Linked DNA regions of Homo sapiens: regions 2, 3, 4 and 5 are each linked to region 1. Evidence: fine-mapped QTL for protein levels in blood plasma. A gene starts in region 1. Each other region holds a variant in brackets. All regions are shown on one strand. Distances are between the middles of the regions.

The links. PIP is the chance, under the fine-mapping model, that this variant and not a neighbour inherited with it causes the effect. Protein levels are from the aptamer-based SomaScan assay of Sun 2018.
Region 2: its variant is fine-mapped to the plasma level of the MSMB protein (Sun 2018, PIP 0.95).
Region 3: its variant is fine-mapped to the plasma level of the MSMB protein (Sun 2018, PIP 0.95).
Region 4: its variant is fine-mapped to the plasma level of the MSMB protein (Sun 2018, PIP 0.95).
Region 5: its variant is fine-mapped to the plasma level of the MSMB protein (Sun 2018, PIP 0.95).

Annotation. Positions count from the first base shown.
Region 1 is chr10:46,043,588-46,048,693 of GRCh38, reverse strand. MSMB (microseminoprotein beta) reads left to right here and starts at 2,425. Exons shown (of 4, transcript NM_002443.4): 1 at 2,425-2,459. The coding sequence starts at 2,457. RefSeq lists an enhancer at 3,975-4,476.
Region 2 is chr10:45,617,503-45,622,608 of GRCh38, reverse strand. It overlaps ZFAND4 (zinc finger AN1-type containing 4), which reads left to right. Exons shown (of 10, transcript NM_174890.4): 9 at 4,349-4,469. Among named protein-coding and RNA genes, the nearest start is that of ZFAND4, 53 kb to the left of the region's middle. The variant T/C (reference allele first, on the strand shown) is at 2,509.
Region 3 is chr10:45,343,149-45,348,254 of GRCh38, reverse strand. No RefSeq gene overlaps it. Among named protein-coding and RNA genes, the nearest start is that of ALOX5, 29 kb to the left of the region's middle. RefSeq lists a silencer at 4,248-4,449. The variant T/C (reference allele first, on the strand shown) is at 1,948.
Region 4 is chr10:45,121,746-45,126,851 of GRCh38, reverse strand. It overlaps the pseudogene RSU1P2. Among named protein-coding and RNA genes, the nearest start is that of MIR3156-1, 40 kb to the left of the region's middle. The variant TTG/G (reference allele first, on the strand shown) is at 2,638.
Region 5 is chr10:45,326,584-45,331,689 of GRCh38, reverse strand. No RefSeq gene overlaps it. Among named protein-coding and RNA genes, the nearest start is that of OR13A1, 14 kb to the right of the region's middle. The variant AG/G (reference allele first, on the strand shown) is at 1,898.

The sequences.
Region 1 (5,106 bases):
CTGCACTCCAGCCTGAGCAGCAGAGCAAGACTATGTCTTTAAAAAAAATTAAAATAAATAAAAAGAAAAATAAATAATTAAAAGAAATTAAGTTGGTTCCATCTATAAGGATGACAGTTGAGGTAGGATCAACACTGAAAACTGATCAGGCAGGTTTGGACAGAGCTGGCTGTCACACACCCGGAGAGCACTGCTCATTTCATTTGCCTTCCTCCCTGTGGGCAGCTGGCCACACCTGCTCTGAGCATCCCTTTCTCAACCCCTGGGGAGCAGTAGATGAGCTCATTTCAGCAGTGATATGGGTTGGTCTTGCCAGGATACTTTCTACTTGGGAATACCTGAGATAACCCAGGTGAAATCCTGTTCTGGGCAGCTGCTTTGCACCAGGCACCCTGCTGGTCACTGGAAGGCACACAGACAGGAATAGGTCACAGTCACTGTCTGGGTCACAAAGTTCTTAACTGCAAACAATAGAATTTACTCTAGGTCATTTGAGGTGGAAAGAGATTTGTTAGAGAATTCAAGCCTCTACTAACGGCCAGAGACACAGGCTTTCTTGGCACAAGTTCAGGTAGAGCACTGAAACCACACTGCTGCTTGGCTCCAGCAAGACCACCTTGCTACCAGTCACAGTCACAGCCCCCATGCACTGACACTGCACACTGGACTCCAAGAAACCCTTGCCCTAAGAGCCAGAACCCTCCACACCATCATTCCTAGGGAGATTCTGCATGATGCCAGTGTCCTTGGACCCTCTCTGAAGAGGACTTTTTGAGAGGAGAGTGTTTGTGGAGCCGAGGTTTGTGCCTGTACCCTGGAGGTAAGCAGGTGAGGGCAGCAAATCCTAGTTCCTCTCAATGTAAGGCAGAACTTCCCACTTCACACTGTGGGAAGTTCTTCAAACTTGGAGTTTTAAAAGAATCCAAGGGGCTACAGTGCATGATGAATGTGCCCCGATTTCCTGGAACTTAGAGTCGATGAACACTTAACTTATGCAGGTAAAGGCAGAAGTGTGTGGCACCGTTGGTGAGTGAGGAGGCAGCCAGACAGCACTACAGCTCTTCTAAGGAGCAGGAGAGTGACCTCAAGCTGTGTTAGGGGTGGTGAGGCTGATTTTAGGGAGGGTAGAGGATGGTGCTGGAAAGGGCCACTGTGGCCAGCTCAGATGAGCTTCAAGGATCCCCTGGTTAGGAGCATGAACTCTCATCTGTGGGCAGAGGGATCTCAGGTTAAATTTTAGGAACTGTAGCAAGCTGTGGCGAGGAGTGAGGGGACTTTTTGGGATAAAATTGTCTTATGAGCTCAATTGCATCCCCTAAAAATTCATTGGTTTAAGCCCTAACCCCCAATATCCCAGAATGTGACTGTAATGGAGACACGGCCTTTAAAGAGGTGGCTTAGGTAAAATGAGATAGTTAGAGTGGACCCTAATCCAATACAGCTAGTGTCCTTATCAGAAGAGGAAATTTGGACACAGAGAGAGATGCCAGGGATGCATGCCATGTAAGAGGCAGCAAGAGCATGGCCATCTGCAAACCAAAGAGAGAGGGCTCAGAGGAAAACAAGCCTTCCCCAATGGCTTGACCTCACATTTCTAGTCTCCAGAACTGTGAGCAAATAAATTTCTTTAGTCAAAGCCACCCAGTTGCAGTGTTTTGTTGTGGTGGCAGAGCAAACAGATAAAGTAGTAAGTCCCTCCAGCACCCTAGGAGGTTCTGCTTGTTGCCATTCCCCAAAGGCCATCCTAGCCATGATGAGGGCAGGTGCGGTTGTTTGGGAGGAGACCACTGTGGAACAAAGAGAAACAAGGCTTGCTTGATGCAGCAGGGAGTAGACTACAGATTCAAGAAGGGCTCTAGAAAGGTCCAGCAATTCAGCTTGTCAGGGAACCCCGAGCTGTATGTAGTTCTTGCTCTCCTGTGCCCTGCAGGATGGCTTGACCCATTTCTGTTCTCATGTCAGACCCTAAGGGCAGGGTCATCTGGGCCACAGACCCAGGCCCGGTGGGCCTGGTGGGCTGACCTGTGGGCTATTCTTATGCCTTCAGGAAACCCACCTTTACCACCTGGCTGTTGTGACTGGCATCGCTGAGGCTGTTTCTTTGTGTATAAAATCGAATAAGGACACATCACGTGCTAGCAATCCACCAGCATAGGGCGAAGGCTCAGCAAAGAGAAGTTCTCTCCTCCTCTGCTCTTTTAGGTCAGCAGCAAATGCAGATCGGGGTGGGGACAAGGTAAACACATAACTTGGGTGGAGATGTGATTGATTAATAACTCATAAATCATCTGAAACCATACTTTCCTTTTGATAGTCAACCCTCTGTAAACACTCAATGTGTTCTCACCTTGTTATCATTCCCAATGATGTCGAATGCGTGGTTGCCCTCTCCAGTATAAAAGTTTGATGCAGCTTTGCCTGGATGTACCTGTCTATAAGGAGTCCTGCTTATCACAATGGTAGGTAACTGGTTTTATATATAAAGGCTAGAAAAGCAAAAGAGAATATGTATTCCTATTTTAATATGCGTGTGCTTCTACCACATAGCATTGAATGGTAAATGTGACCTAGTTAGGAACCTTATGTTATTACCTGCAATTCAATGTGCAGAGTATGAGAGTCTGAGAGCTTGCGAAAATTGTAATGAGTTTAGCACTAGTTCTGTTCTCTAAGATCTAAGTTGTTTTTCCTTCCAGTAATTCTGGGGTTCAATTAGATTTCATAAGTGTCTCTAATTCTTGGGTCCTATGTGAGTAATTTGAAATTAAAAATAATTTCAGAGCTACATGACTGCATCGTTTTTGAGATGAGGGAACTGAGCCTGGGGAGGGGAAGAAGCTGCCACTGGGGTCTCACCGCAAGCCTGTGAATGAGCTGAGATAGGAACCCAGGCATTCCTCTCTCCCTGCCAGGGGCTCCCAAACTTGGCTGTGCAGTGGAAACTCCGGGGGAATTTTGAAGAACACTGACACCCATCTTCCACCCCGACACTCTGATTTAATTGGGCTGCAGTGAGAACAGAGCATCAATTTAAAAAGCTGCCCAGGTCATTTTAATACTCAAGTTTGGGAACCATTTCCCTAGGCCCTTTTCACTGTATCATGTGTTAAGGAAAAATCTTGGGTTTGGGGCTGTGTTTGTTGGTTTATTTGTTTGTTTTTGAGACAGGATCTCACTCTGTTGCCCAGGCTGGAGTGCAGTGGTGCAGTCATGATTCACTGCAGCCTGGACCTTCCTGGGCTCAGGTGATCCTCCCATCTCAGCTTCCCAAGTAGCTGGGACCACAGGCGAGTGCCACCATGCCCGACTAATTTTTGTATTTGTTTTAGAGATAGGATTTTGCTATGCTGCCCAGGCTGGTCTTGAACTCCTGGGCTCATGCAATCTGCCCACCTCAGCCTCCCAAAGTGGTGGGATTACTGGTGTGAACCACTGTGCCTGGCCAAGAAAGAATTTTGCTTCAAAATTTATAAAAACCCATGCAGGCTTTTCTTGTGTCTTAAACTTGATCTTTCTTAAAACATTCTTTACTAACGCTGGGGACTGAACTGGGCTGCTCTGGGGGCTGCAAGGGAGATGAGGCAAGAAACAGCCAGCCAAGTGGGAGGAGCCAAGGGAGGTGGGAGAGGGTCCTCAGGAGGGGACCCCGGGCCTCCTCTGGGCCACTCGGCAAGACAAACTTGCTCTCAGAAACTGTCCGGAGGCAGAACTGGGGATGGTAAAACAACAGTGGGGTGGGAGGTCCTCCCCATCTCCACTAGACAGGCTCCTCCAGCCTATACTCTATGCAGCCTCACAGTGAACTTAGCAAGCTGCAGAGCTGGCAATACCTCTGCCTGCCTAAGATCCTGAGGACCCCCAACTCTTTATTTATTTATTTATTTATTTTATTATTGTTATTTGTAGTAGAGATGAGTTTTTACTATGTTGCCCAGGCTGGTCTCTAACTCTTGGGCCCAAGTGATCCTCCCACCTTGGCTTCCCAAAGTGCTGGGATTACAGGTGTGAGAAATTATGCCTGGCCAGACCCCCAACTCTTGATCATGGGATAACCCTTCCAGGAGCAGTAATTTACCTAAAGAGATACAACTTTTTTTTTTTTTTTTTTTTTTTTTTTTCTGAGACGGAGTCTCTCTGTCGCCCAGGCTGGAGTGCAGTGGCGCAATCTCGGCTCACTGCAAGCTCCACCTCCCGGGTTCACGCCATTCTCCTGCCTCAGCCTCCTGAGTAGCTGGGACTACAGGCGCCCGCCACCACGCCCAGCTAATTTTTTGTATTTTTAGTAGAGACGGGGTTTCACCATGTTAGCCAGGATGGTCTCGATCTCCTGACCTCATGATCCACCCGCCTCGGCCTCCCAAAGTGCTGGGATTACAGGCGTGAGCCACCGCGCCCAGCCAAGAGACACAACTTCTAAGGATACTGCCAGCCTGCTTCACCTCAAGGCTCGCTGTACCATCTAGAAAATCCTAGCCCATTCTGGCGTCGTGGTGTAATCTCCTGCACACATCAGGAGCTCAGGGTTACTAAATGCAGGAAAGGAAGACACAAAGGGAAGGAAGGCTGGTGGCAGAATAGAAGACAGGAATGAAAAAAGCTTTAGAGCCTCTCTACTCAGGGGTGGACCTCAGACCAGCAGCGTGGGCATCACCTGGGAGCTTCCGTGTAAGTCTAAAGACCTACTGAAGCAGAATCTGCAGGTTAATTAACAGGCTGTCTGGTTGGGCGCGGTGGCTCACGCCCATAATCCCAGCACTTTGGGAGGCCGAGGCGGGCGGATCATTTGAGGTCAGGTATTTGAGACCAGCCTGGCCAACATGATGAAACTACGTCTCTACTACAAATACAAAAATTAGCCAGGTGTGGTGGTGCACTCCTGTAATCCCAGCTACTCAGGAGGCTGAGGCAGGAGAATCACTTGAACCCGGGAGGCGGAGGTTGCAGTGAGCCAAGATTGCATCACTGAACTCTACTCTAGGCGATAGAACGAGATTCCGTCCCAAAAAGAAACAAACAAACAGACAAACAAAACAAAACAAAAAAAACTCCCAGGAATTTATATGCACATTAAAGCAGCACTGGGTTGGTCATTGTTCCTGGGTTCTC
Region 2 (5,106 bases), 430 kb after region 1:
ACAATCTAGAAATGGAACCACTGCTCTTTTGACAGGTGCTATCTCAGTGGCATCACTGGAAAGTCCAGAATGCCTGACACATTAGGAAATCCGATGCCTGACACATTAGGAAATCCAGTTTGTCTATTTTCTCCTTTTGTTACCTGTGCCTTTGGTGTCATATCCAAGAAATCACCACCAAATCCAATACCATGAAGCTTTTCCCCTATCTTTTCTTCTAGAAGTTTTATAGTTTTAGGTCTTATGTTTAGGTCTTTGATCCATTTTGAGTTAAAATAGAGTGTAAAGTAAGGGTTCCACTTCATTCTTTTGCATGTGAACATCCCATTTTCTTATTAACTTTTGTTGAAACACTGTCCTTCCTCATTGAATGGTCTTGGCACCCGTGTTGAAAGTCATTTGATCATGTATACGAGGATTTGTTTCTGGACTGTCTACTCATTGGTCTATGTGTCTGTTTTATGCCAGTATCACATCGTTTTTATTACTGTAATTTATTGACTTTTAATGTTATAGTTGTTGTTTTTCGTTGACACATAACTCTGTCCTGCCCTAACGCACAACTGATCTTCTTGGAAATTTGCATTGCACCCATCCCTACTCACTCAGCTCTAGTTCAGTCTTCAGTGCTGGTTCACGTCTCACTGCTCTTCTGAAACTGCTATTGCCGTGGTCACTGACAATCTCCATAATTTCAAATCCATTGGATGCCTCCATATCTTTATCTTATTTGATTTTTGTGTCCTTCATTCTTGAAATAGTTTTTTTTAAAAAAAATTCTAGGCTATCACATTGTTATAAATTTTTACTTTTGTTTTAATCTTTTTTTAACCTCAGTTTTTGTTTGTTTGTTTGTTTGTTTTTTGTGAGGTGGAGTCTCACTCTGTCTCCCAGGCTGGAGTGCGGTGGCACGATCTCGGCTCACTGCAAGCTCCACCTCCCAGGTTCACGCCATTCTCCTGCCTCAGCCTCCCGAGCAGCTGGGACTACAGGTGCCCGCCACCACACCCGGCTAATTTTTTGTATTTTTAGTAGAAACGGGGTTTCACTGTGTTAGCCAGGATGGTCTCGATCTCCTGACGTCGGGATCCGCCCACCTCAGCCTCCCAAAGTGCTGGGATTACAGGTGTGAGCCACTGCGCCTGGCCTTAACCTCAGTTTTCTTCTGTCCTTTTTTTTTTTTTTTTAACCAGCCCTCTGCTTGTCCCCAGATATATGCTTTTTTGTTTGATTTCATTTAGATTTGAAGTATCAGCTGCTAGCTGCAGTAGAGCTGTGTAACTTGCTTCCATTTTTCTCTCACTGTAATAACTATCATTCTGAATTATCTAGAAGAGTCTATATACATTTTGATGCAAGTTTCATTTAATTGACTTCCTAAATTCCTCCATTGGTCCTCTGTTCTTTTCACTATAAGGTTTCCCTTGGAAACTGTATTCATTATTATAGATTTAGCCATTGATTTTAGGCAGACGACTACCAGCCTTGCGTCTGGAACACTGATTTATTACTTTTTGCTGCCTTTCTGTTGGGTCAGTTTTTGTAGATCCTGTTAGATGTTAGATAAAATATGAGACTAGGAAATGGCAAGCAAGTGAATTACCTCAAGTACCTTTCATCTTGTTGTGAAAAGCAACTCTTACCATCAATATGATTTTATGGGTTTTTTTCTTTATTCATCTGTTCAGTACACATTTGAGAGAAGGCTTCAGAGAGGAGTTGATAATTGATGATGTCTTACAGGATAAGTCAAATTCTACTGGGTTGACAAGGTAGAGTTTACTTTAGAAGAGATTGCAGATGTGGAAGGACTTGGTACATCCTTCGGGGTAGGTATGACATGGTAAATTACAGTGTCTCTGGATAGTTAGAAAGGCATTATATTGGACATAATAATACCTTAAATGCCAGTCCAAGGAATTTAGATTTTTCCTGTTTATAGTGGGGAATCAATATGTTTATTGATGGTTCCTAGTACACAGTAGTTGCTAATAGTTTTCTCTATTGGTAGAAGGATGTATGGAGGCTGCTCTCATAGAGTACTGCACTTATATTTTTGTGCTACCTCATTACTGTCACTAATGTATTCTCTGTCTCTACACATTCGCAAGAGTTCTTTTTTTTTAGACAGAGTCTCGCCCTGTTACCTGATTAGGCTGAAGTGCAGTGGCACGATCTCGGCTCACTGCAACCTCTTCCTCGCGGGTTGAAGTGATTCTTCTGCTTCAGCCTCCTGAGTAGCTGGGACTACAGGCGCGTGCTACCATGCCCAGCTAATTTATGTATTTTTAGTAGAGACGGAGTTTTACCATGTTGGCCTGACTGGTCTTGAACTGACCTCAGTTGATTCGCCCACCTTGGCCTCCCAAAGTGCTAGGATTACAGATGTGAGCCACCGCGCCCAGCCTCACAAGAGTTCTTAAATGAAAAAAAGTATGGAGAATATCAAGTTAAGCATCCCCTAAGAAAAGAAAAAAAATGAAAATGTGACTACAGTGAATTAAATTA[T/C]CATCAGAGATTCTTCCACCATTGTTTAAGGAAGAATATCCTAAGCCTGAATTTTAAAGATGGTTTCGAGTAGATTAACATTCATTGGACATCTTGTAATATATGCCTTTCTTTGGTGTCTTGTGCAAGTGCAAGTAAATATCTTTTTAAAAATACTTTAAATAATGGAATTACTCCCTCACCTTTGTGAGATGTTCTTGGTATCTCTAAGTGCACTTGAGAAAGAAAACGTTTATTAACTGAGTTGGTACCCAGGCACCATTAGGAGTCTCTCAATTGTTTCAAATTTTGTTTCTAGTTTTGGCAAGATCTGGAAGTGTATTTTATACTGGTAATAAAGAAGATTTAATTTTGCTGGGCTTGTGTACAAATTACCTAATCTCTGTTGTGACAAAAAAAAAAAGACATAGAACCAATTAATTGTAAATCCAATTTTTTGAACCCTTTAAGAAATTTCAGACTTTTAGCTGCCAACTAAATACCAAGCTTAGGCCTCCTAAACCTTTTTCAGTAGTGGAGAAAAGGTCCCAGCACCATTGACACTACCAGTTTTTCCTCACTCCTTCCACTTGTTCTTGCATTCTTTCTTTGCCTCTTGCTTCTTAGCCTTTGTGTGACACCAAGCACATGTGTATTTGTACTGTTACTTTATCAACTATGGGCAGGAACTTTGAGCCTCTCTGCTTATGACTGGGGTTTGTTGGCATTTTGATCAGTTCTAAAAGACATTTAACTTAGTAATTAAAGAAATTGATTTGGCCTGGCGTGGTGGCTCACACCTGTAATCCCAGCACTTTGGGAGGTTGAGATGGGCGGATCATGAGGTCAGGAGTTCAAGACCAGACCAGACTGACCAAGATGGTGAAACCCCGTCTCTACTAAAAATACAAAAAAAAAAGCTGAGCGTGGTGGTGCGTGCCCATAGTCCCAGCTACTCGGGAGGCTGAGGCAGAAGAACCACTTGAACCCAAGACACAGAGCTTGCAGTGAGCCGAGATTGCGCCACTGCACTACAGCCTGGGCGACAGAGCAAAATGTCTCAAAAAAAAAAAAAATTGATTTAATTCTTTCTTATATAATAACAGATGTGCTCTTATTTTTAAGGTAAAAACTCAAGTTGATACAGTAATACAGAATTCAGTAAATATTTTTGGAAAACTAGTAGTACTGTGAAATTGAGCTGTGTACTGTTAGTTACTATTATTAATATGACATTTTATGTAATTATAACATGCTTAAAACTTTCAGAGTGCTTTTTACATATATGGATTGAGTTGACCTTAAAGTGCTTATTAACCTAGAGAGAAAAATACATGTTCTATTATGTTAAAAATAAACATATTGAAGTTTTGAAAGAATAAATGACTTGCTCATGGTTTGATGAACTGTCAGTGGTGTAATAGGACTAAAAGGCATGTTTCATGATATTCTGGTACTTCTTTTTGGTGTGAACAAACAGAATATTTATATTGCAATCATGTTCTCAGAGGCTTCATCAAATATGATTTTGAAGCAGACATTTTTCTTTATTCTCTGTCAAAATTTGGTGTACTTTATATAAACTGATTACCATTAGAAATAATGAGGAAAGTGGTGTGTATAAAAAGTTCTAAAAATATAAGTGCTAATCAGTAGAAACCTACCACATCTTAAAAGAAATAGTTCCACTGCAACTTGACCTGTAGATTTTATAAGTAATTTTAGATATAAAAATAGCACAAATTAATTTTTATGGCATAGATATTTACTTTGATAGGACTATGTTTTGTGTTTTGCTTAATAATATTTCATGTTTAGGATTTTATGCCTGTGTTAATCAAGGTGTCCTTTCTCTAAACAGGAGAATGTACTACTCATCACCTCCCACCTGTGAAAGCCCCTCTTCAGACAAAGAAGAAAACAACAAATCATTGTTTTCTTTGTGGAAAGAAAACAGGACTGGCTAGTAGCTACGAATGCAGGCAGGTTGGCGAGCTGGAGAAGCTCAGATGCTTTCTCTGTGATAACCCAGCTTGGGGATTATGCAAAATAAAATATTTAAATTGCCTGTTTATAACATCATTAAGATGATGTTCAATAGCTATCTTCAGTTGAACTTCTAATTGGCTGAAGTAAAGAACAAGTAGATAGCTCATGGGTTTCCAAAAGACAAAAACAGATCCTTCCTTGTCCTTTAAGTTAGGAGGTTTAAACCAATCTGAGAGTGTACCTTTTTCGTCTTATGATGAACCTGCTTGGATTTTGTTTGAGTGGCACCTTGGAAGAACCCCTCCCTGAATATTCTATTAAAAATTTAATTAAAAAATTAAAAGTTAATATAAAATAGATGAATAATATATTTCCAAAAAAGTATGACCTTTTTCTTACTGTAATTATTTATTTCATTAGTATTGATTGATATCCTCCAAGGATGTTATGTCATATTATCTTGGATGTCTGCCCTTAGATTGGGGCTAGGCTTGAATTAAAATAACTGCTGCTGCGGACTTTTTTTTTTTTTTTTTTTTTTCAGTACTGTAATCATAACTCACTGGAGCCTTGATGTCTTGGGCTCAAGCGATCCCCCTGCCTCAGCCTCCCTAATAGTGAGGACTATAG
Region 3 (5,106 bases), 700 kb after region 1:
TCACTTCCCAGACGGGGTGGCCGGGCAGAGGCACTCCTCACCTCCCAGATGGGATGGCCAGGCAGAGGCGCCCACTTCCCAGATGGGGTGGCCGGGCAGAGGCGCTTCCCACCTCCCAGATGAAGGGCGGCCGGGCAGAGGCGCTCCCCACCTCCCAGACGAAGGGTGGCTGGGCAGATAGGCCCCTCACCTCCCAGATGGGGCAGCCGGGCAGAGGTGCTCCTCACCTCCCAGATGGGGTGGTGGCCAGGCAGAGGTGCTTGTCACCTCTCAGATTTGGTGGCAGCTGGGCAGTGGCTCTCCTCACCTCCCAGATGGGGTGGCAGCCGGGCAGAGGTGCTCCTCACCTCCCAGACAGGGCGGCCGGGCAGAGGCACTCCTCACCTCCCAGACAGAGCGGCCGGGCAGAGGCGCTCCTCACTTCCCAGATGGGGCGGCCAGGCATAGGTGCTCCTCACATCCCAGATGATGGGCGGCCAGGCAGAGACACTCCTCACTTCCCAGACGGGGTGGCAGCCGGGCAGAGGCACTCCTCGCTTCCCAGACGGGGTGGCCAGGCAGAGGCACTCCTCGCTTCCCAGACCTGGCGGCCGGGCAGAGGTGCTCCTCACATCCCAGACGGGGAGGTGGCCGGTTAGAGGCGCTCCTCACCTCCCAGATGGGGTGGCGGCTGGGCAGAGGCGCTCCTCACCTCCCAGACGGGGCAGCTGGGCAGAGGCACTCCTCATTTCCCAGAAGGGGTGGCCAGATAGAGGCGCTCCTCACTTCCCAGATGGGGCGGCCAGGCAGAAGCACTCCTCACCTCCCAGACGGGGTGGCTGGGTAGACATGCTCCTCACTTCCCAGACGGGGTGGCCGGGCAGAGGCACTCCTCACCTCCCAGATGGGATGGCCAGGCAGAGGCGCCCACTTCCCAGATGGGGTGGCCGGGCAGAGGCGCTTCCCACCTCCCAGATGAAGGGCGGCCGGGCAGAGGTGCTCCCCACCTCCCAGACGAAGGGTGGCTGGGCAGATAGGCCCCTCACCTCCCAGATGGGATGGTGGCCAGGCAGAGGCACTTGTCACCTCCCAGATTGGGTGGCAGCTGGGCAGAGGCTCTCCTCACCTCCCAGATGGGGTGGCAGCCGGGCAGAGGCGCTCCTCACCTCCCAGACAGAGCAGCCGGGCAGAGGCGCTCCTCACTTCCCAGATGGGGCGGCCAGGCATAGGTGCTCCTCACATCCCAGACGATGGGCGGCCAGGCAGAGACGCTCCTCACTTCCCAGATGGGGTGGCAGCTGGGCAGAGGCGCTCCTCGCTTCCCAGATGGGGTGGCCAGGCAGAGGCACTCCTCACTTCCCAGACCCGGCGGCTGGGCAGAGGCACTCCTCACATCCCAGACGGGGAGGTGGCCAGTTAGAGGTGCTCCTCACCTCCCAGATGGGGTGGTGGCCGGGCAGAGGTGCTCCTCACCTCCCAGATGGGGTGGCGGCTGGGCAGAGGTGCTCCTCACCTCCCAGATGGGGCGACTGGGCAGAGGCGCTCCTCACTTCCCAGATGGGGTGGCCAGGCATAGTCGCTCCTCATATCCCAGATGGGGCAGCCGGGCAGAAGCCCTCCTCACATCCCAGACAATGGGCGGCCAGGAAGAGATGCTCCTCACTTCCCAGACGGGGTGGCGGCCGGGCAGAGGCTGTAATCTTAGCACTTTGGGAGGCCAAGGCAGGCGGCTGGAAGGTGGAGGTTGTGGTGAGCCGAGATCACGCCACTGCACTCCAGCCTGGGCAACACTGAGCATTGAGTGAGTGAGACTCCGTCTGCAATCCCAGCACCCTGGGAGGCCGAGGCGGGCAGACCACTCGAGGTCAGGAGCCGGAGACCAGCCCGGTCAACATGGTGAAACCCCGTCTCCTCCAAAAATACAAAAACCAGTAAGGCATGGCAGCGCGCACCCACAATCCCAGGCAC[T/C]CGGCAGGCCGAGGCAGGGGAACCATGGGAGCCCAGGGCAGGGAGGCTGCAGCGAGCCGAGACCATGGCAGTACAGTCCAGCCTCGGCAACAGAGGGAGACTGAAGAAACAAAGAAAGGGAGAGGGAGAAGGAGAGGGAGAGGGAGAGGGAGAGGGAGAGGGAGAGGGAGAGGGAGAGCCATATGTAGTTTAAAGTAGTTTTTTTCCAATTCTGAGAAGAAGGTCATTGGTAGCTTGATGGGGATGGCAATGACTCTATAAATTACCTTGGGCAGTATGGCTATTTTCACGATATTGATTCTTCCTACCCATGAGCATGGAATGTTCTTCCATTTGTTTGTATCCTCTTTTATTTCCTTGAGCAGTGGTTTATATTTCTCCTTGAAGAGGTCCTTCACATCCCTTGTAAGTTGGATTCCTAGGTATTTTATTCTCTTTGAAGCAATTGTGAATGGGAGTTCACTCATGATTTGGCTCTCTGTTTGTCTGTTATTGGTGTATAAGAATGCTTGTGATTTTTACACATTGATTTTGTATACTGAGACTCTGCTGAAGTTGCCTATCAGCTTAAGGAGATTTTGGGCTGAGACGATGGGGTTTTCTAGGTATACAATCATGTCATCTGCAGACAGGGACAATTTGACTTCCTCTTTTCCTAATCGAATGCCCTTTATTTCCTTCTCTTGCCTGATTGCCCTGGCTAGAACTTCCAACACTATGTTGAATAGGAGTGGTGAGAGAGGGCATCCCTGTCTTGTGCCAGTTTTCAAAGGGAATGCTTCCAGTTTTTGCCCATGATGTATGATATTGGCTGTGGGTTTGTCATAGATAGCTCTTATTATTTTGAGATACATCTCATCAATACCTAATTTATTGAGAGTTTTTAGCATGAAGCGTTGCTGAATTTTGTCAAAGGCCTTTTCTGCATCTATTGAAATAATCATGTGGTTTTTGTCATTGGTTCTGTTTGTATACTGGGTTACATTTATTGATTTGTGTACGTTGAACCAGCCCTTGCATCCCAGGGATGAAGCCCACTTGATCATGGTGGATAAGCTTTTTGATGTGCTGCTGGATTCGGTTTGCCAGTATTTTATTGAGGATTTTTGCATCGATGTTCATCAGGGATATTGGTCTAAAATTGTTTTTTTTGTTGTGTCTCTGCCAGGCTTTGGTCTCAGGATGATGCTAGCCTCATAAAATGAGGTAGGGAGGATTCCCTCTTTTTCTATTGATTGGAATAGTTTCAGAAGGAATGGTACCAGCTCCTCCTTGTACCTCTGGTAGAATTCGGCTGTGAATCCTTCAGGTCCTGGACTGTTTTTGGTTGGTAAGGTATTAATTGTTGCCTCAATTTCAGAGCCTGTTATTGGTCTATTCAGAGATTCATCTTCTTCCTGGTTTAGTCTTGGGAGGGTGTATGTATGGAGGAATTTTTCCATTTCTTCTAGATTTTCTAGTTTATTTGCATAGAGGTGTTTATAATATTCTCTGATGGTAGTTTATATTTCTGTGGGATCAGTGGCGATATCCCCTTTATCATTTTTTATTGCATCTATTTGATTCTTCTGTCTTTTCTTCTTTATTAGTCTTGCTAGCGGTCTATCAATTTTGTTGATCTTTTCAAAAAACCAGCTCCTGGATTCATTGATTTTCTGAAGGGTTTTTTGTGTCTCTATTTCCTTCAGTTCTGCTCTGATCTTAGTTATTTCTTGCCTTCTGCTAGCTTTTGAATGTGTTTGCTCTTGCTTCTCTATTTCTTTTCATTGTGATGTTAGGGTGTCAATTTTAGATCTTTCCTGCTTTCTCATGCGGGCATTTAGTGCTATAAATTTCCTTCTACATATTGCTTTGAATATGTCCCAGAGATTCTGGTATGTTGTGTGTTTGTTCTCATTGGTTTCAAAGAATATCTTTGTTTCTGCCTTCATTTCATTATGTACCCAGTAGTCATTCAGGAGCAGGTTGTTCAGTTTCCATGTAGTTGAGTGGTTTTGAGTGAGTTTCTTAGTCCTGAGTTCTAGTTTGATTGCACTGTGGTCTGAGAGATAGTTTGTTACAATTTCTGTTCTTTTACATTTGCTGAGGAGAGCTTTACTTCCAACTATGTGGTCAATTTTGGAATAGGTGTGGTGTGGTGCTAAAAAAAATGTATATTCTGTTGATTTGGGGTGGAGAGTTCTGTAGATGTCTATTAGGTCCGCTTGGTGCAGAGCTGAGTTCAATTCCTGGGTATCCTTGTTAACTTTCTGTCTCGTTGATCTGTCTAATGTTGACAGTGGGGTGTTAAAGTCTCCCATTATTATTGTGTGGGTGTCTAATTCTCTTTGTAGATCTCTAAGGACTTGCTTTATGAATCTGGGTGCCCCTGTACTGGGTGCATGTATGTTTAGTATAGTTAGCTCTTCTTGTTGAATTGATCCCTTTACCATTGTGTAATGGCCTTCTTTGTCTCTTTTGATCTTTGTTGGTTTAAAGTCTGTTTTATCAGAGACTAGGATTGCAACCCCTGCCTTTGTTTTCCATTTGCTTGGTAGATCTTCCTCCATCCCTTTATTTTGAACCTATGTGTGTCTCTGCATGTGAGATGGGTTTCCTGAATACAGCACACTGATGGGTCTTGACTCTTTATCCAGTTTTCCAGTCTGTGTCTTTTAACTGGAACATTTAGCCCATTTACTTTTAAGGTTAATATTGTTATGTGTGAATTTGATCCTGTCATTATGATGTTAGCTGGTTATTTTGCTAGTTAGTTGATGCAGTTTCTTCCTAGCATCGATGGTCTTTACAATGTGGCATGTTTTTGTGGTGGCTGGTATGGGTTGCCCCTTTCCATGTTTAGTGCTTCCTTCAGGAGCTCTTTTAGGGCAGGCCTGGTGGTGACAAAATCTCTCAGCATTTGCTTGTCTGTAAAGGATTTTATGTCTCCTTCATTTATGAAGCTTAGTTTGGTTGGATATGAAATTCTGGGTTGAAAATTCTTTTCTTTAAGAATGTTGAATATTGGCCCTCACTCTCTTCTGGCTTGTAGAGTTTCTGCCAAGACATGAGCTGTTAGTCTGATGGGCTTCCCTTTGTGGGTAACCTGACCTTTCTCTCTGGCTGCTCTCAACATTTTTTCCTTGATTTCAACTTTGGTGAATCTGACAATTATGTGTC
Region 4 (5,106 bases), 920 kb after region 1:
TCAATGCATTGAATAGCATTGAATCTGTAAATCTGGGGGAGAAGTATGGCCATTTTAATAATATTGATTCTTCCTATCTATGAGCATGGAATGTTCTTTTCATTTAATAGGGTGGAGGGTGGCAGAAGGGAGAGGAGCAGAAATCACTGGCAATTGGGCATGTGTTGCTATTTTTGTCTTTAGTGAGTGAGCTCCTGAGATTGTCCCATGGGAGGATCTGTTGACCCAGGGACCCAGAACCAGTGCAACCCAAGGCCAGCGGGTGAAGTTGAAGAAGTGTCCGCCCGATGGCATCTTATCTATTCTCAGCTTGTAGACTGTGGCCACCCCCTTGCCCCCATTCTCTTTGTTCTCGGCCCCACCAACCAAAATGTACCTGTTCCAGAATCCTTTTTCTTGAGGTCCTGTACTGTGCTAAGTGGCAGCTAGCTAACATGCTAATTCCTCCACAGTATATTTTTAAATGGAACCACCCCAATCGTGAGAACTTCAGAACGGTGGCAGGCTGTGGAGAAAATAAGATGGGGGAGTGTAAGTCTGTCACTTTCCAACTCCTAGTTAGCCCATGTGCACGGCTGATCCTGAAAAAGATTTCTTTTGCTATTGATGATAGAATGTCTATCAAACAGAATTGATGTAATAGCAAAATATTATACATAGATTTTCAGTTGATGCACTCTCTCCTAAATAACTTGGTGTGTGTGTACATGTGAGTGTATGTACAGGATGTTAGAGGAGATACACTAAGAAGTGCGATACTTAGGTACATACATTCTTCTAGAGCATCTCTTCTCTTTTTTTATGTTTTTATTTTTTAGAGATAGTGTCTTTATCACCCAGGCTGGAGTGCAGTGGCATGATCCTAGCCCACTGTAACCTGAAACTCCTGGGCTCAAGCAAGCCTCCTAGATGGATGTGCACCACCACGCCTGGCTAATTTGCCCAGGCTGGACTCGATCTCCTGGGCTCAAGTGATCCTCCTTCTTCGGCCTCCCAAAGTATTGGAATTACAGGCCACTGTGAGCCACTGTGCCTGGCCTTCTTAACTTTTCTTAAGTCACTGACTTTTTTAAATAATAGAGTGAAAACTACAACCCTGATCCATAGAGAAGTGCACGTGATGGTTCTAATTTCAGCAGGCTTATGGATCCCATTGTGTTCATCCATGAATTTTTTAGAGGTCTACGTAGCTCAGATTTAGAAACTCCAGAGTTGGGTGAAGATAACACTAGTATGTTTGTACGCAGTGTGGACATAGTGATGCTATTTTTTTTTTTTTTTTTGAGACAGGGTCTCACTCTGTCATCCAGGTTGGAATGCAGTGGCATGATTTCGGCTCACTGCAACCTCCGTCTCCCAGGTTCAAGTGATTCTTCTGCCTCAGCCTCCCTAGTAGCTGGGACTACAGGCATGCATCACCATGCCCAGCTAGTTTTTGTTTTTGGTAGAGACGGCTTTCACCATGTTGGCCAGGCTGGTCTTGAACTCCTGGCCTCAAGCTATCTATCTGCCTTGGCCTAGTGATGCTATTTCTTAAAGGAGATGCTTCTTGGAAATTTGTTTAAAACTTTAGATAATTTTTAATGCATCACAGAACTCATTCTTAATGGCTTCTTAAAAATTGTTGATAAGTGCCACCTTATTTATCTGCTTAAATTTACATTTGGTTAAATAAGAATTTGTAATCTTTAGCTCCCAGGCTTGAATGGAACATGGTGTGGACACATGCAGATACTTTTAAATGGAATACCTTTCCCATTTCCATTTTTCGCTTTCTTCGTCAGTCAGCCTCATAGGCCAAAACCACTTGAATACAATTGATAACCAGTTAACAAACTAATGGACCTTGCATTTTGCTGTTTTCAGTCTGAACCCTCTTTTGTCTAATTTTTTGCTATTTCTTTAGCTTCTTTTCCCCTGCCTATATATTTTTTGTTCTAGTTACCTGTTTTTTTCTAAAATCTTAAGTTCCTACCCCTCTCTCTGAATTTTGCTCATCCTTCAGAAAGTTGAGATGAATGCTCATCTTTCTCTGTGAAGCCCTCCTTTTCATCCAACTGAACCAGCAATGTGTGGAAAGAAATACAAGGTACCCCACAGCCTGGGGACCATCAAGAACAACACCTATGTAATAACTTCAGCAGGAGATGAAAGGGAAAAGAGCAAATTTGTTGAACCCCCACTCTATATCACGTGGAGGAAACAGGTGTAAAGTGGTTAAGTGACCAGAACGAGGGAACGACAGAGCTTTCTGCATGGCTTCCAAGTGGCTGCTCCACCATGTCCCCTGCTGTCTCTGCAAGTGATGTGTGTGTGCACTTGTGCACTTGAGATGCCCCATCAGGTCAATCTAGGAACGCCATGGACAAAGTGTTCCTGTGGCTCTGGATCCTTACTCATTCCATTAGAAGAACAGGGACATTTCCTAAGGTTAAAAGCCATAGCTGTGTTAGTTCAAAGGGGAAGATCAAAGCTCCCATGTGGATTTGGTGGATTTTCCCAGCCCTGGGCCTCTTCCTTTCCCTCCCATTCCTGCCCTCCTCATGCAGTGACCCTAAAGATAAGGTCCAGTAGGAAAAGAAGCAGTCCAGTTTTGGCCTCTTGCTGGATTAATTCCTTTTTTTTTTTTTTTTTTTT[TTG/G]AGACAGGGCCTTACTTTGTTGCCCAGGCTGGAGTGCAGTGGTGCAATCTCGGCTCACTGCAGCCTTAACCTCCAGGTTCAAGTGATCTTTCCACCTTAGGCTCCTGAGTAGCTGGGACTACAGGCATGCACCACCATGCCAAGCTAATTTTTTGTAGAGGTGGGGTTTTGCCCTGTTGCCCAGGCTGGTCTGAAACTCCTGGGCTCAAGCAACCCACCCATCTCAGCTTCCCAAAGTGCTGGGATTACAAGTGTGAGCCACTGCACCCAGCCTAGATTAATTCTTAATTGTAAAAGAAGACAGAAACTAATGACAAAACATGCTTTTTATGTGTGCGTGTAAGAGAGTGCAAGATAGAATGTGACTTGCTTACTGTCTACCTCGTAATGTTAATAATCGAGGCTTACATATAGATATACATTCATATATATTATACATAATAAAGACATGTACTCATATAAAAGAGCCTAGATCACTCCTTTTATAACACTGAGCTTGTTATTCTCCATTGATGGGTTGAAGTTTTTTTTCATATTCTCTTTCTCTCTCTTCCCGGTGTTTTGGAATTTCCTGGGCATTTTTCCTACCCTTCCTTTTCTTACCCTTCGCTGGATGTCACTTCCTCCCCAGGCCACTGAATGCCATTGAATGCCACTTCCTTTCCTCTCAGCGCTGCTTCTCCCTCCCAGCTCCCCAATTAAAGCTCTTTATTCATGTATGGCTTTGCTGGAGGGGTAGCGCATCAGAACTGGAGTGCAATTTAGAAGCGGTGTTCCTGCAAGAATTCAGAGTTCATATGTCCTCCTGAAGATGCTTTGGAAGTTAACACAAGATTCAGAAATTAACTAATTTTTATATGCTCAGAGGAGAAGAAATCTATGCTTGTCAGTTTTTTAGGAGATTTGTTTGGTTATGCATACACCTTTTTATAGCTCAGGAACATATATTTTTGCACGTTTGGCTTTATACACTAAAATCTACCTTATTACTTGCTTATACCTTTTTTCTCTAATTTTCATGCAATTCATTTTCACATTGCTGCTGAAAGAGTAGGACCATTGTGTTGCAGTGAGTTAAGCCAGGGACATTTTTGTTTACTAAATAACTTAGGCTATAGAATCCTGAGGCGGCTCATAATAGCATAGAGTGAGCATGTGCTTTCGGGGCACAGGTTCTCAGTAAATACTTGTTGTTTATTAACTGAAAGTAGCATTGCCTTTGTTATTTATAAAACTAATAATATTTGGAGAACTTTGTTATTTATAAAGCTAATAATATTTGTTGGCCTTTCTTGGGGTAGATGCTTCGATATTTTGCTATTTTATGTTTACCTTGAGGAACATGTAGAACCTTTTAAATGAGAATTTGTTTCACTGTTTCATAAACTTTAAATAACCTAGAACTACTGTAATTCACTGCTTTAATAGCTGCTTTGGGTGAAATTCCGTAAAATCTGTGAAGCCAGTTATCATTAGTATACTTTCGAATTTCAAACTCTTATGGTAATATGTAATAAGTTCATTATCCACCTTGTGTTTTTGGCCAGAAAACAAAGGTAATTAATCACTATGACTACAAATGACCTTTTTTTGCATATAAAGTGCTTAGGAGGACTTGAAGGTAATTAATCAGTATAACTACAAATGACCTTTTTTGCATATAAAGTGCTGAATAGTTTAATTATTCCTACGCGAGAGTGAGAAGATTCTTCTTTATGTAAAATCATTAAAATGGCATCGAGAACTATGATTTGCTGAAAGACTTGGCATGTCTATAATTAGTCTAGACACCACCTTTGTGCTGTGAATGGACTAATGTTCTCCAGTTATTATGGCTAGAGATTAAAAAGCCTGTGCTTTCACTTTGACCACGGATGCCCCAAGTCATATTTCATCACGTTTCTGCTAATTTGTTTTTTTTCTCCCTTGCTTCATTCAGGCCAAAGAGGGGCACTTGTTTTTCAGTATCATATTCATCAAATGCTGGGGCAAGGAAATGTTTACTTTCACCATTTTCTCATAAGTGGTCCTTCCCTCTCCCGTATATATAATGAATAATCTCACTCATTTTCATCTATTCTCAGGTTTTTAGTGGTTTTTCTAGTAACTTAATTGTAGTAATGTAACATACTAAGTTATCTAAGTGACAAGCTCATTTTAATATCCTCTACCATCCTCTATCCTTCTATGCTTTATTTTAAAAAGCTGTAGAAATATACGACATTGTGAACATCTGACCAGGCATTTTCATTTGTTACGGCAACAGACAAAAACCTCCTTTTTTTAAAATAGCAGTATGTCAGGTTTTTAGAAGCAATGCTACTCAGCTTCATTTTGCTGTGACTCATTCCATGTGGTTTCTTTGGGGACCCTTTGGCCTGAGGGTAGGTGGCATTTTTGCATCCTGGAAATGGGCACAGCACAGTATGTTGCCTCCATTGCAGCACAAGGGCGGGCATGCCCCTGT
Region 5 (5,106 bases), 720 kb after region 1:
CCCAGATTCATAAGGCAAGTTCTTAAACACCTACAAGGAGACTTAGACTCCCACACAATAATAGTGGGAGATTTTAATACCCCACTGTCAATATCAGACAGGTCAATGAGACAGAAAATTAACAAGGATATCTAGGAATTGAACTCAGCTCCAGACTAAGCAGACCTAATAGACATCTATAGAACTCTCCACCCCAAATCAACAGAATATACATTCTTCTCAGCACCACATCGCACTTATTCTAAAATTGACCACATAATTGGAAGTAAAACACTCCTCAGCAAATGCAGAAGAATGGAAATCATAACAAACAGTCTCTCACACCACAGCGCAATTAAATTAGAATTCAGAATTAAGAAACTCACTCAAAACCTCACACTTACATGGAAACTGAACAACCTGCTCCTGAATGACTGCTGGATAAATAATGAAATGAAGAAGGATAAAGATGTTGTTTGAAAACAATAAGAATAATGTACCAGAAACTCTGGGACATATTTAAAGCAGTGTGTAGAGGAAAATTTATAGCAGTAATTGCCTACAAAAGAACACAGGAAAGATCTAAAATCGACACCCTAACATCACAATTAAAAGAACTAGAGAAGCAAGAGCAAACAAATTCAAAAGCTAGCAGAAAACAAGAGATAACTAAGATCAGGGCAGAACTGAAAGAGATAGAGACATGAAAAACCCTTAAAAATCAATTAATCGCTCTCCCTCTCCCTCTCCCTCTCCCTCTCCGTCTCCCTCTCCGTCTCCCTCTCCCCACGGTCTCCCTCTCCCTCTCTTTCCACGGTCTCCCTCTGATGCCGAGCCGAAGCTGGACTGTACTGCTGCCATCTCGGCTCACTGCAACCTCCCTGCCTGATTCTCCTGCCTCAGCCTGCCGAGTGCCTGCGATTGCAGGTGCGCGCCGCCACGCCTGACTGGTTTTCTCTGCCCGGCCAGCCGCCCCGTCCGGGAGGGAGGTAGGAGGTCAGCCCCCCGCCCGGCCAGCCGCCCCATCCGGGAGGTGAGGGGTGCCTCTGCCCGGCCGCCCCTACTGGGAAGTGAGGAGCCCCTCTGCCCAGCCACCACCCCGTCTGGGAGGTGTACCCAACAGCTCATTGAGAAGGGGCCATGATGACAATGGCGGTTTTGTGGAATAGAAAGGGGGGAAAGGTGGGGAAAAGATTGAGAAATCGGATGGTTGCCGTGTCTGTGTAGAAAGAAGTAGACATGGGAGACTTTTCATTTTGTTCTGTACTAAGAAAAATTCTTCTGCCGTGGGATCCTGTGGATCTGTGACCTTACCCCCAACCCTGTGCTCTCTGAAACATGTGCTGTGTCCACTCATGGTTAAATGGATTAAGGGTGGTGCAAGATGTGCTTTGTTAAACAGATGCTTGAAGGCAGCATGCTCCTTAAGAGTCATCACCACTCCCTAATCTCAAGTACCCAGGGACACAAACACTGCGGAAGGCAGCAGGGTCCTCTGCTTGGGAAAACCAGAGACCTTTGTTCACTTGTTTATCTGCTGACCCTCCCTCCATTATTGTCCTATGACCCTGCCAAATCCCCCTCTGCGAGAAACACCCAAGAATGATCAATAAAAAAATAAATAAATAAAAATAAAAATAAAATAAAATAAAATAAAAAAAGAAATAAACACAAATAAAATGTTAAAATTCCCATTCTACATAAAATCATCTATAGATGTTTTTAAATATACAACATGATTATCAAGGACTTAATCTGTACCACATTCTTGTAGATGTAAAGTTAAAATTCTTGTAACCATCACTCTCAACCCTACCCTATCTTCCAGCATAAATGAGACTTTCACATGTTTTCTCTTGCCCAGATGGAGACACTAACTGTAGGCTTTGGAAATGTCTTAAAAAAAAAAAAAAAAAAA[AG/G]AGAGCCAGGCATCTTCAAACAGAGAAAAGCTGTTTGAACACATTTATCTAAGTCTATCAAAAGCTATGATTGTTAGCAAGAGGTAACCTTGTAATGCCAAGGCAGAAAACTGCCACCAAACCACAAAAAGCTTGTTCAACTGCTGAACCTAAAATTAAACAATTTATCTCTCATTAAAAAAAAAAAATCAATTAATCCAGGAGCTGGTTTTTTTTTAAAGATCAACAAAATAGATAGACCACTAGCCAGACTAATAAAGAGGAAAAGAGAGAAGAGTCAAATAGACATAATAAAAAATGATAAAGGAGATATCACCACTGATCCCACAGAAATACAACCTACCATCAGAGAATATTATAAACACCTCTATGCAAATAAACCAGAAAATCTAGAAGAAATGGATAAATTCCTGGACACATACACCCTCCCAAGACTAAACCAGGAAGAAGTCAAATCCCTGAATAAGCCAATAACAAACTCTGAAATTGAGGTGGTAATTAATAGCCTACCAACCAAAAAAAGTCCAGGACCAGACGGATTCACAGCTGAATTCTACCAGAGGTACAAAAGGAGCTGGTACCATTCCTTCTGAAACTATTCCAAACAATAGAAAAAGAGAGAATCTCCCTAACTCATTTTACGAGGCCAGCATCATCCTGATACCAAAGCCTGGCAGAGACACAACAAAAAAAGAAAATTTCAGGCCGAAATCCCTAATGAATATTGATGCAAAAATCCTCAGTAAAATTCTGGCAAACCGAATCCAGCAGCACATCAAAAAGCTTATCCACCATGATCAAGTTGGCTTCATCCCTGGGATGCAAGGCTGGTTCAACATATGCAAATTAATGAACGTAATGCATCACATAAACAGAACCAATGACAAAAACCATGTGATTATCTCAATAGATGCAGAAAAGACCTTCGACAAAATTCAACAGCCCTTCACGCTAAAAACTCTCAATAAACTAGATATTCATGGAACATGTCTCAAAACAATCAGAGCTATTTATGAGAAACCCACAGCAGCCAATATCATACTGAATGGGCAAAAACTGGAAGCATTCCCTTTGAAAACTGGCATAAGACAAGGATGCCCTCTCTCACCACTCCTATTCAACATAGTATTGGGAGTTCTGGCCAGGGCAATCAGGCAACAGAAAGAAATGAAGGATATTCAATTAGGAAAAGAGGAAGTCAAATTGTCTCTGTTTGCAGATGACATGACTGTATATTTAGAAAACCCCATCATCTCAGCCCAAAATCTCCTTAAGCTGATAAGCAACTTCAGCAAAGTCTTGGGATACAAAATCAATGTGCAAAAATCACAAGCATTCCTATACACCAATAACAGACAAACCGAGAGCCAAATCACGAGTGAACTCCCATTCACAGTTGCTGCAAAGAGAATAAAATACTTAGGAATCCAACTTACAAGGGATGTGAAGGACCTCTTCAAGGAGAACTACAAATCACTGCTCAATGACATCAGAGAGGACACAAACAAATGGAAAAACATTCCATGCTCATGGATAGGAAGAATCAATATCGTGAAAATGGCCATAATATCCAAAGTAATTTATAGATTGAATGCTATCCCCATCAAGCTACCACTGACTTTCTTCACAGAATTGGAAAAAACTACTTTAAATTTCATATAGAACCAAAAAAGAGCCTGCATAGCCAAGCCAATCTTAAGCAAAAATAACAAAGCTGGAGGCATCACACTACCTGACTTTAAACTATACTACATGGCTGCAGTAACCAAAACAGCATGGTACTAGTACCAAAACAGATATATAGACCAATGGAACAGAACAGAGGCCTCAGAAATAACACCACACATCTACAACTATCTGATCTTTGACAAACCTGACAAAAACAAGCAATGGGGAAAGGATTCTCTACTTAATAAATGGCATTGGGAAAACTGGTTAGCCATATGCAGAAAGCTGAAACTAGATCCCTTCCTTCCACTGTATACAAAAATTAACTCAAGATGGGCTAAAGACTTAAATGTAAGACCTAAAACCATAAAAACCCTAAAAGAAAACATAGGTAATACCATTCAGGACATAGGCATGGGCAAAGACTTCATGACTAAAACACAAAAAGCAATGGCAACAAAAGCCAAAATTGACAAATGGGATCTAATTAAACTAAGGAGCTTCTGCACAGCGAAAGTAACTACCATCAGAGTGAACAGGCAACCAACAGAATGGGAGAACATTTTTGCAATCTATCCATCTAACAAAGGGCTAATATCCAGAATCTACAAAGAACTTAAACAAATTTACAAGAAAAAACAAACAATTCCATCAAAAAGTGGGTGAAGGATAAGAAAAGACTCTTCTCAAAAGAAGACATTTATGCAGTCAACAAGCATAGGAAAAAAAGCTCATCATCACTGGTCATTAGAGAAGTGCAAATCAAAAACACAATGAGATACCATTTCATGCCAGTTAGAATGGCCATCATTAAAAAGTCAAGAAACAACAGATACTAGAGAGCATGTGGAGAAATAGGACCACTTTTACACTGTTGGTGGGAGTGGAAATTAGTTCAACCATTGTGGAAGACAGTGTGGTGATTCCTCAAGAATCTAGAACTAGAAATACCACAATAGCAAAGACTTGGAACCAACCCAAATGCCCATCAATGATAGACTGGATAAAGAAAATCTGGCACATATACACCACAGAATACTATGCAGCCATGAAAAATGATGAGCTCATGTCCTTTGCAGAGACATGGATGAAGGTGGAAACCATCATTCTCAGCAAACTAACACAAGAACAGAAAACCAAACACCACATGTTCTCACTCATAAGTGGGAGTTGAACAATGAGAACACATGGACACGGGTTGGGGGGGTATCACACACTGGGGCCTGTTGGGCTATGGGGGGCTGGGGAGGGATAGCATTAGGGGAAATACCTAATGTAGATGACAGGTTGATGGGTGCAACAAACCACCATGGCACATGTATATCTATGTAACAAACCTGCACATTCTGCACATGTACCCCAGAATTTAAAGTATAATAAGAAAAATAAAAATAAATAAGTTAAAAGAGATTAAAAAAATAAAAGAGAACATTTGCCACATTCAGTCTTTCTAGATGGAAAGAGGTTGCTGACATATGATAGAATTAGAAAATCACACATCTTGTAAATTCTCATTTGTTTAAAAAGAAATCATACAAAT